Homo sapiens: one gene and its partner. The protein of the gene in region 1 interacts with the protein of each later gene in a pairwise test. Each region holds a gene or a part of one and is shown on either strand. Other genes may lie near its edges.

Evidence for each region.
Region 2: the proteins of KLC1 (region 1) and NIN interact in a two-hybrid assay, tested with the Homo sapiens proteins (one large-scale study listed by BioGRID).

What each region holds. Positions count from the first base shown.
Region 1 is NC_000014.9:103,656,498-103,660,319, reverse strand, and holds part of KLC1 (kinesin light chain 1), read right to left. Parts: intron 2,775-3,822; coding exon 2,544-2,774; intron 1-2,543. UniProt on the Homo sapiens protein: Kinesin is a microtubule-associated force-producing protein that may play a role in organelle transport. The light chain may function in coupling of cargo to the heavy chain or in the modulation of its ATPase activity.
Region 2 is NC_000014.9:50,719,307-50,723,228, reverse strand, and holds the end of NIN (ninein), read left to right. Parts: 3' UTR 1-3,466; downstream 3,467-3,922. UniProt on the Homo sapiens protein: Centrosomal protein required in the positioning and anchorage of the microtubule minus-end in epithelial cells. May also act as a centrosome maturation factor.

The DNA of each region.
Region 1 (3,822 bases):
TAGTAGAGATAGGGTTTCACTATATTGGCCAGGCTGTCCTCCAACTCCTGACCTCAGGTGATCTGCCTGCCTCGGCCTCCCTAAGGGCTGGGATTACAGGCATGAGCCACTGCGCCCAGCCACATCTTTTAAATCAAAACATTTAGTTGGCCCCTAACCTAGAGGAGATGTGAGGGAGGATTTTGGTAAGCCTTTTGAAATAGCATGCTGTCAACTAAACTGTGTTCTCCCCAAATTCCTATGTTAAAGCCCTAACCCCCAGTGTAATGGTATTTAGAGATGAAACCTTTGGGAGGTGATCAGGATAAGATGAGCTCGAAAGTGTGGGGCCCTCATGATGGGATTAGTGCCCTCATAAAAAGAGACACCAGAGAGCTTACTCCCTCTCTCTCTGTACCATATGAGAACACAAAGAGATGGCAGCAGTCTGCAAGCCAGAAAGAAGGCCCTCCCCAGAACCGGACCCTGCTGGTACCCTGATCTCGGACTTCCAGAACTATGAGAAAATAAATGTTAAGCCATCCAGCCCGTGGTATTTGTTACAGTAGCCCAAGCAGATGAAGACAGAGGGGAAATGCAGGTTTGCTGGTGCTACGCAAAAAACTGTTTCAGTAGTCTTAGGATGGGGATTCGAACGAGACACACAAATGTGCACCTCTCTAGTATTCTGATTATGTACATGAACATGTCTGGCATCATACAGGTATTTAAAAAACGTTAGTTCCAAATGCAATGTGGAACACTGGACTAGGTCCTAGCACAGAAAAGAGATACTAGTGGAAGGCCTGGTGACATCCAACCAAGTCTGTGTTTCAGTTAACAGTAAAGTGTTGATGTTAATATCTTAGTTCTGACCACTGTTCTATGATTATGGACGATCAGGGGAGACTGGGTTATGGGCACATCAATTTTCTTCTCTAACTTTTCAACTTTTCAATCAATTTAAAATTATTCCATTGGAAACTTGAGAGGAGGGTAAAATTTTTAAAATTAAAAATAAGTAAAATAAAATAATTCCAAAATTTAGAAATTTTCTTTAAAAAGAAGTTAACTGAAGCCGGTCGTGGTGGCTCACGCCTGTAATCCCAGCACTTTGGGAGGCCGAGGCGGGGGGATGACCTGAGGTCAGGAGTGGCCAACATGGTGAAACCCCATCTCTACTTAAAATACAAAAATTAGCCAGTCGTGGCGGTACGCACCTGTAATCCCAGCTACTTGGAAGGCTGAGAAGGGAGAATCGCTTGAACCCAGGAGGTGGAGGCTGCAGTGAGCCAAGATCGCGCCATTGCACTCCAGCCTGGGGTACAAAAGCGAGACTTCGTCTCAAAAAAAAAGTAAAAAAAAAAATAAAAAGAAGTTAACTGGCTGGGCGCAGTGGCTCACACCTGTAATCCCAGCACTTTGGGAGGCCGAGGCAGGCAGATCACAAGGTCAGGAGATCAAGACCATCCTGGCTAACGCAATGAAACCCTATCTCTACTAAAAATACAAAAAATTGGCCAGGCGTGGTGGCACACACCTGTAGTCCCAGCTACTCGGGAGGCTGAGGCAGGAGAATCGCTGGAGCCCGGGAGGTGGAGGTTGCAGTGAGCCAAGATCGTGCCACTGCACTCCAGCCTGGGTGACAGAGTGAGACTCCATCTCAAAAAAAAAAAAAAAAAAAGTTAACTGAATCAGAAATAAATGTTGAATGAAAAATAACTGAGACTAGGATAAACATCCAAATAGAGCCAACAGAGAAAGAAGGCTGGGCATGGTGGCTCCCACCTGGAATACCAGCACTTTGGGAGGCTGAGGTGGGCAGATCACTTGAGGCCAGGAGTTCAAGACCAGCCTGGCCAAAACAGTGAAACCTCATCTCTACTAAAAAAAAAAAAAAAAAAAAAAAAAACTTAGCTGGGCATGGTGTCACACACCTGTAATCCCAGCTACTCCAGAGGCTGAGGCAGGAGAATCACATGAACCCGGGAGATGGAGGTTGCAGTAAGCCAAGATTGTGCCATTGCACTCCAGCCTGAGTGACAGAGCGAGACTCCTTGTAAAAAAAAGAAGAAGAAGAAAACCAAGATCGTTTCTTCCCCTGCAGATACAGAAAGATAAGCTGGCAAGGGAAGCCAAGGGGAGGATGAGAGAGGCGGCAAGAGAGCCAGGTGGTGTCCAGAGGGCCAGGGGAGTTTCAAAGAGAATGGCAATGCCAAGAGCACCCACCCTAAGGGGCAGAGAGGTTGCCCAGAGTCCAAATTCAGACGGCCAGATTGGACCACTGCTAGACCAGCAGCTGATGGCATGGAAGCCAAGCTACAGAGGGGCAAGGAAGCTCCAGAGCCTAAGCTGGGGCAGACCTCGGGACAGACCTCGGGGCAGACCTTGTTGAAGGTAATGGTGTCTCTCTGGATTGTGGCTTATATTTACAAAACATTTTTGCATGTTCTAATGTTCTAATATGTTCTAATATGAAAAGAATATGGCAAACAGAACCTCTATGACTTTCCCAGTGACTCCATTTTAAACATTAGCACCACATTTGCTACAGAGCCACTCACGGATGGGGAAATGTCGTCATCATATTTTTTTAGCTGATTCATAAACTCCAGATGCTTCTTCTCCTCCTCCAGTTGAGCCACAGACTGCTCACTCTTCTGCAGTTTCTGCTGCGTGTTGGCCAGTTCATCCCGTAGCCACTGATTCTCCTGGCACAGACGACGAACCTGCGCACGCAGTTTCTGCTTCTCGGACTCCACAGCATTCAGGTGATTTGACAAAGCCATCATAACCTGAGCAGACAGAAACGTGTGCAGCACTGTGGCACGTTGTCCAGCAAGAGTCCCTCCCACCCGTGCGAACATTCTGTGGCTGGGGCTGTAGCTTACACTCGCAGATATTTTCTCCAAAGTACATATAAGTACAATCTGCCATTTACTTCTCTTTTCCCCTTCAGCCACAGACTACAAAGCAGGGTATGATAAAGAATATCACACGCTCAGAATGCCTACAAAAAAATACTTATTTTTTTGAAGAGCATGCCAAATGAACTAGCAATGAAAACACAGCTACCCTTCTGATGAAACTGTATTATTTTACTTTCTATCAAGATGGGCCCAACATAATTTTTTATAGACCCTTTCCCATGTGTAAGACCTCGTGTACACACATGCATGTCTGCGCACAGAGTGCATGTTGGTGAAGGGCTGCAAGTGGGGGTCAGAGAACAGTGCACATACAAATCTTCCTTGATGTTCCAAGGTGAGAGAAGACATCTCTGTAGCTACCACCAAGAGTAAGAATGCACTGGTGCACTCATAAGCTTATGTTTATGTCATAAAATCCAGGGGCCACTCCAGGGCTCTGCCTACAGAGTGCTCACTGGTTTCTGGAACAGACCAGCGTGAGGCTGTGGCAAGTTCCTAGGAGCATAAGAGCACAAACAGCTAGGAGCTGGCTGGCAGCAATCTGTTCTCTCTTTAGAACATACATCTGCCCATCCCTCTCATAACATAATAACCAGGTTATTATCCTCCTAGGTTTAAAACCTGAAACTCCAGAAGGTGGGACCTTTTCTTCCTTCTTTTTTTAAAACTCTTATCTGCGACACCAAAAAAGCAAGTTTAAATTCATGTCACCTGTTCTCAAGGTAACAGAACTTGAGAAATAATACGTTCACAATATCCAAACAGAGCTACAGTTCTGCAACTCAAGGCTGTAACATGGTTAGGATGAAGACTCTAAAATCAGGGTGTGGGCAGTCACTTCCTCTATGAAAGCAGAAACCGCTGGCCAGCAGCCCCTCTTCTGCTCTATTCACTCACTAAACTAGAGAATGCT
Region 2 (3,922 bases), about 53 Mb from region 1:
GCCACCAAGAATGTGGACATATGAAAATTCAAGAACCTAAAAAATACCAGTTTTGAATGAGTTTTTGTGGTTTTGGTTTTTTTTTTAATTATTACAAATCTATGTGTAAAATCTAGATATTTGAAGTTTGAGATCTGATGAGAATGGTTGTTATAAACTTTATTTTAAAACCAAATTTAGGTGTTCTTACATATTTAAATACTGGAAAGTCATTATAATAGTTTTGGTTCTTTGAATTGGTAGACAATTAGTAGAGTATAATTGGTTAGGAGGCAGGGCTTATTAAGTGGTTATTAACCGCTGACATCAGACAAACCCAAATCTGTAGAATTCTAACCTTCTAACACCTGTGACAGTATTACCACTCTTCTTGTATTATAGATTTAGAACTGATTTACTCAATTGCACTCTTAACTAATGTTAAAAGCTTACTTGCTTTAAACAGCCTTTTCTTCTTTCTCTTAAAAGTTTCATTTGGGGAGCTGGTCTTCTAAGAAACGGATAAAGCCACATAATTAAAGCAGTTGAACTATAGGGAAAGCACTGAACAAACCACTTTGGAGTAAATAGCTACTCTTAGAAAAGAGGGATAAGCAGACCATGTAGGTTTTCTGTCTCTCAAATCTTAGAGTTCATAAATTTACTTGAGGTTGCCTCAAGAACTCAGGGAACAATACTGTAAACTGTCTTCCTGAACTACTGTAGGGCCTCTCTAAGAATTTGAAATGTATAAACCATGTGACCTCATTTATTTGTCTTATATATTTACAGCCATACTAGAATTTTTATTTCTACGTTTTTAGTAAATTTAATATTCTGGGGGAAAAAAGGCCTTGATTTTAGGGTTAAAAACCTGACTTATAGAAGAGTTTATTTAATATAGGTCAAAATTTTCTGTGTTTCTTATTCCTTCTATACCTCAAATCTGATTCTAAGAATTTCTTACTGTGATAATCATTGGCATGCCACCTGAGGTCAAGGAGTGCCAAATAGGACTTTCCACTCATGCTCAAGATCAAAACTTTATAGAACAGTCAACATTTTAGATTCGGTAACCTTTTTTTTCTTCCAATTATAATCTCTGCTAGCCACTTCCGCCAGCAGTTGGTGGAAGACTTACTAGGTGCAGGGCACTTTCCAAGTTCATCACAACAACCTGCTTGTTTTCATGAGACAATAATCCGAAAAGTTCGCTTTGATATATTCCTGGAGGGCCAAGCCCATCTATTTACAAAAGGTGAACAGCAAAATCAAGCACTGCTTTATGGGCAGGAACACAAGAGAAAGCAAACTGCCCAAGAAGTCATCATGTCAGAAACTCAATCTCAACAAAATAATTTCCATCAGGGAACTTCAGGGTTTCTTGGGGGCTTATGAGTCTCACCGGTCAACCCAGGAGGCCTCACTACAAGAGCCTTGACAAGGCACTGTTTTTTGTGGGACTGGGAGTTCACACTGATGAAGCAAACCTTTGAATTTTTGCACAGCTCTTGTCAGAAAGCCCTGAGTTCCCCCTGGATAAAGAGTTAATTTTAATCCTTCCCTATAATTATACTTCAAAATATTTGACATCTGCTATTATGCCTTCTTTAGATCTTTCTTCTGTGGTGCAGACATTTCTAGTAAGTGTTTGACTACTTGTATGGCATTAGCTTTCACAGAAAATTGTTTCACTTAAAACTGTGGATTGGCCTAGGCTAAGGACAAAAATAAACTAAGTACCTGTAGTGTATTTATGTGATATGTGTCAAGTTACTCAAAGTTATTGCTGTTGGAACTGAACAATAATATTTCCCAGATAGCTGGCCTTAGCATGTGATCACGGTTGTTGTATTTTTAATTTTTGTCTTTTACAGTATGAGAGGTGTAGGTTAATTTGTTTATTTCCTATAAATTTGTATTTATGTGTATATAAAATGTACAATGAATGTAAATATGACTTTCTGGAAAGTTTAGACTACATTTAGAATCTCTATTCAAAATCAAAATGCTGCTCAAATGAATTTAACCAACATCTAGGTGCTTAATTTCTCATTTTATCCCACTTATGAGATTGGGAAAAAGATCAATATGAGAAATACCATACAGATACCTTAAATGTATGCATTTGTGCAACAATTTTTGAGAAGGTGAGTGGCAATTTATAATTTAGTTGGCAATTTATAATAGAACTTATAGCTTTTAAAAGACCTTTTAAAGACATTAAATGTAAACTTAAAAATGTTTAGATCTTGTTTCAAACTTTACAATAGCATTCTTCAAAATATTAAGTTATATATTTTATAGGCATTTAGTTGCTTATTAAAAGCACTGATTTTCAAACTTTTTGATTTAAGAACAATTATTTAAGATCGTCTCAGAAGATGGGATCTTCGTTTCAAGAAAAGGGAATCAAGTTTGCCTTTGAGATAATACGTTACACTAAGAAAAGGAAAATGTGGATAGTAAAACCCACCTCTCTCATCCTATTGTACTCTCTTCTGCTTTTTAGAAGCCTGCACTTAAGCTTAGATTTGTGAAGGGAGAGTAGAAGGGGAGAAGTAGAACCACAGTGTTTTATTTATTTTTCTAAAACTCTTACTAAATCCAGATTTTTTAAACTGTTTTAAATGTGAATTCTTCCCAGAAATTTCAATGCATTGCATATTTAGCCTTCGGCATATTTTTCATGAATAGATCATGAAGTCATAGGCTTCCAAGGCATAGGAAGAGATCTTGCAGGTCTAGTATTTTAATAATGCACTATTACCCAGGGCAGATATTATGAGAAACTGTTTCTTCTCTAAGGGTTTATGGCAGACTTTGCTTTTTTAACATGTGAGAAATGAATTTTTTATTTTGTGATTTATGTGATTTCTTTTGCTGAGTGAAGGAAAGGAGAAATTGTTGCTATTGTCAGCATCTTAAAGGTATTTCCAGTCAAGGCAAGGCTAAGTGCTTTGTGATAGTATTAAGCAAGTCATGTTTTGAATGGATTACCTGTAGTGACTCATTGGAATGATATAATTATACAAGTAATGCCAAAAACCAAGTCAAAGCCTAATTAACCAAAGCACTCATTTAAAAATCATCATGTTTGGACCTATCTGGACCTCTCAGCACTGTAAAATAGTTTTGGTTTTGTGGCATATGAATAGCTGTTTAACAAATCAAAGTTAGCTTTTTGCTTCTCAGCTTTTTTGGGCAATACAAGTTAAGTTCTTAATGGGGAGACATTATCATGGCATGACTTAAGGGAACATTGGTTTGTGAAGGAAAAACAGATTATCTAAAGCCATCTCTATGTTTCTGTTCAGATAAAGATTAATGAGTTCTGTGTTTATATCAGCTTTGTATATTTCATCTTAGCCATTCTATCCTAGAAAGATTTTAATGTGAGCTTAAGATGTAAATAAATAATTTTGCAAACATGCCTTTTGTTTTCTATATACCCTGACCTTTTAATAAAGTTTCAGTGTATTTATCATTGGTCTTTAGAATGGTAGCATCAAAATATTTCACTAAACACATTCTACAAATGCAGAATCTCAGCCCGCACTCCAGACCTACTAAATCAGAATCTTCATTTTAAAGAGATTCCCCAAGTGATTTGTATAGGATTTAGAGCATTGGGACTCCATTTCTATTATAGAAGGATGACTTTTACACCAGCCAGTTTGGGGTCCCCGTATACTGTGGCAGTGCATAGTTTACCTGCAGAATCATGACTTAACCTTGGGCAAGGCCCTGTTTGTGATTTTGGGTGCTTCAAAGATGGCTTTATTTCATGTTGCCATCTTTAGGGGTGGCTCAGACTTTCTTAATTGAGCAGCTCATGAATGATGAGATATATGCAGTTGGAAACACAAAAACAACCTAAAACCATGTTAATATGCTGAACACTGAAATGTAGAATTGGAAATGTTGGCCAAACTGACCCATC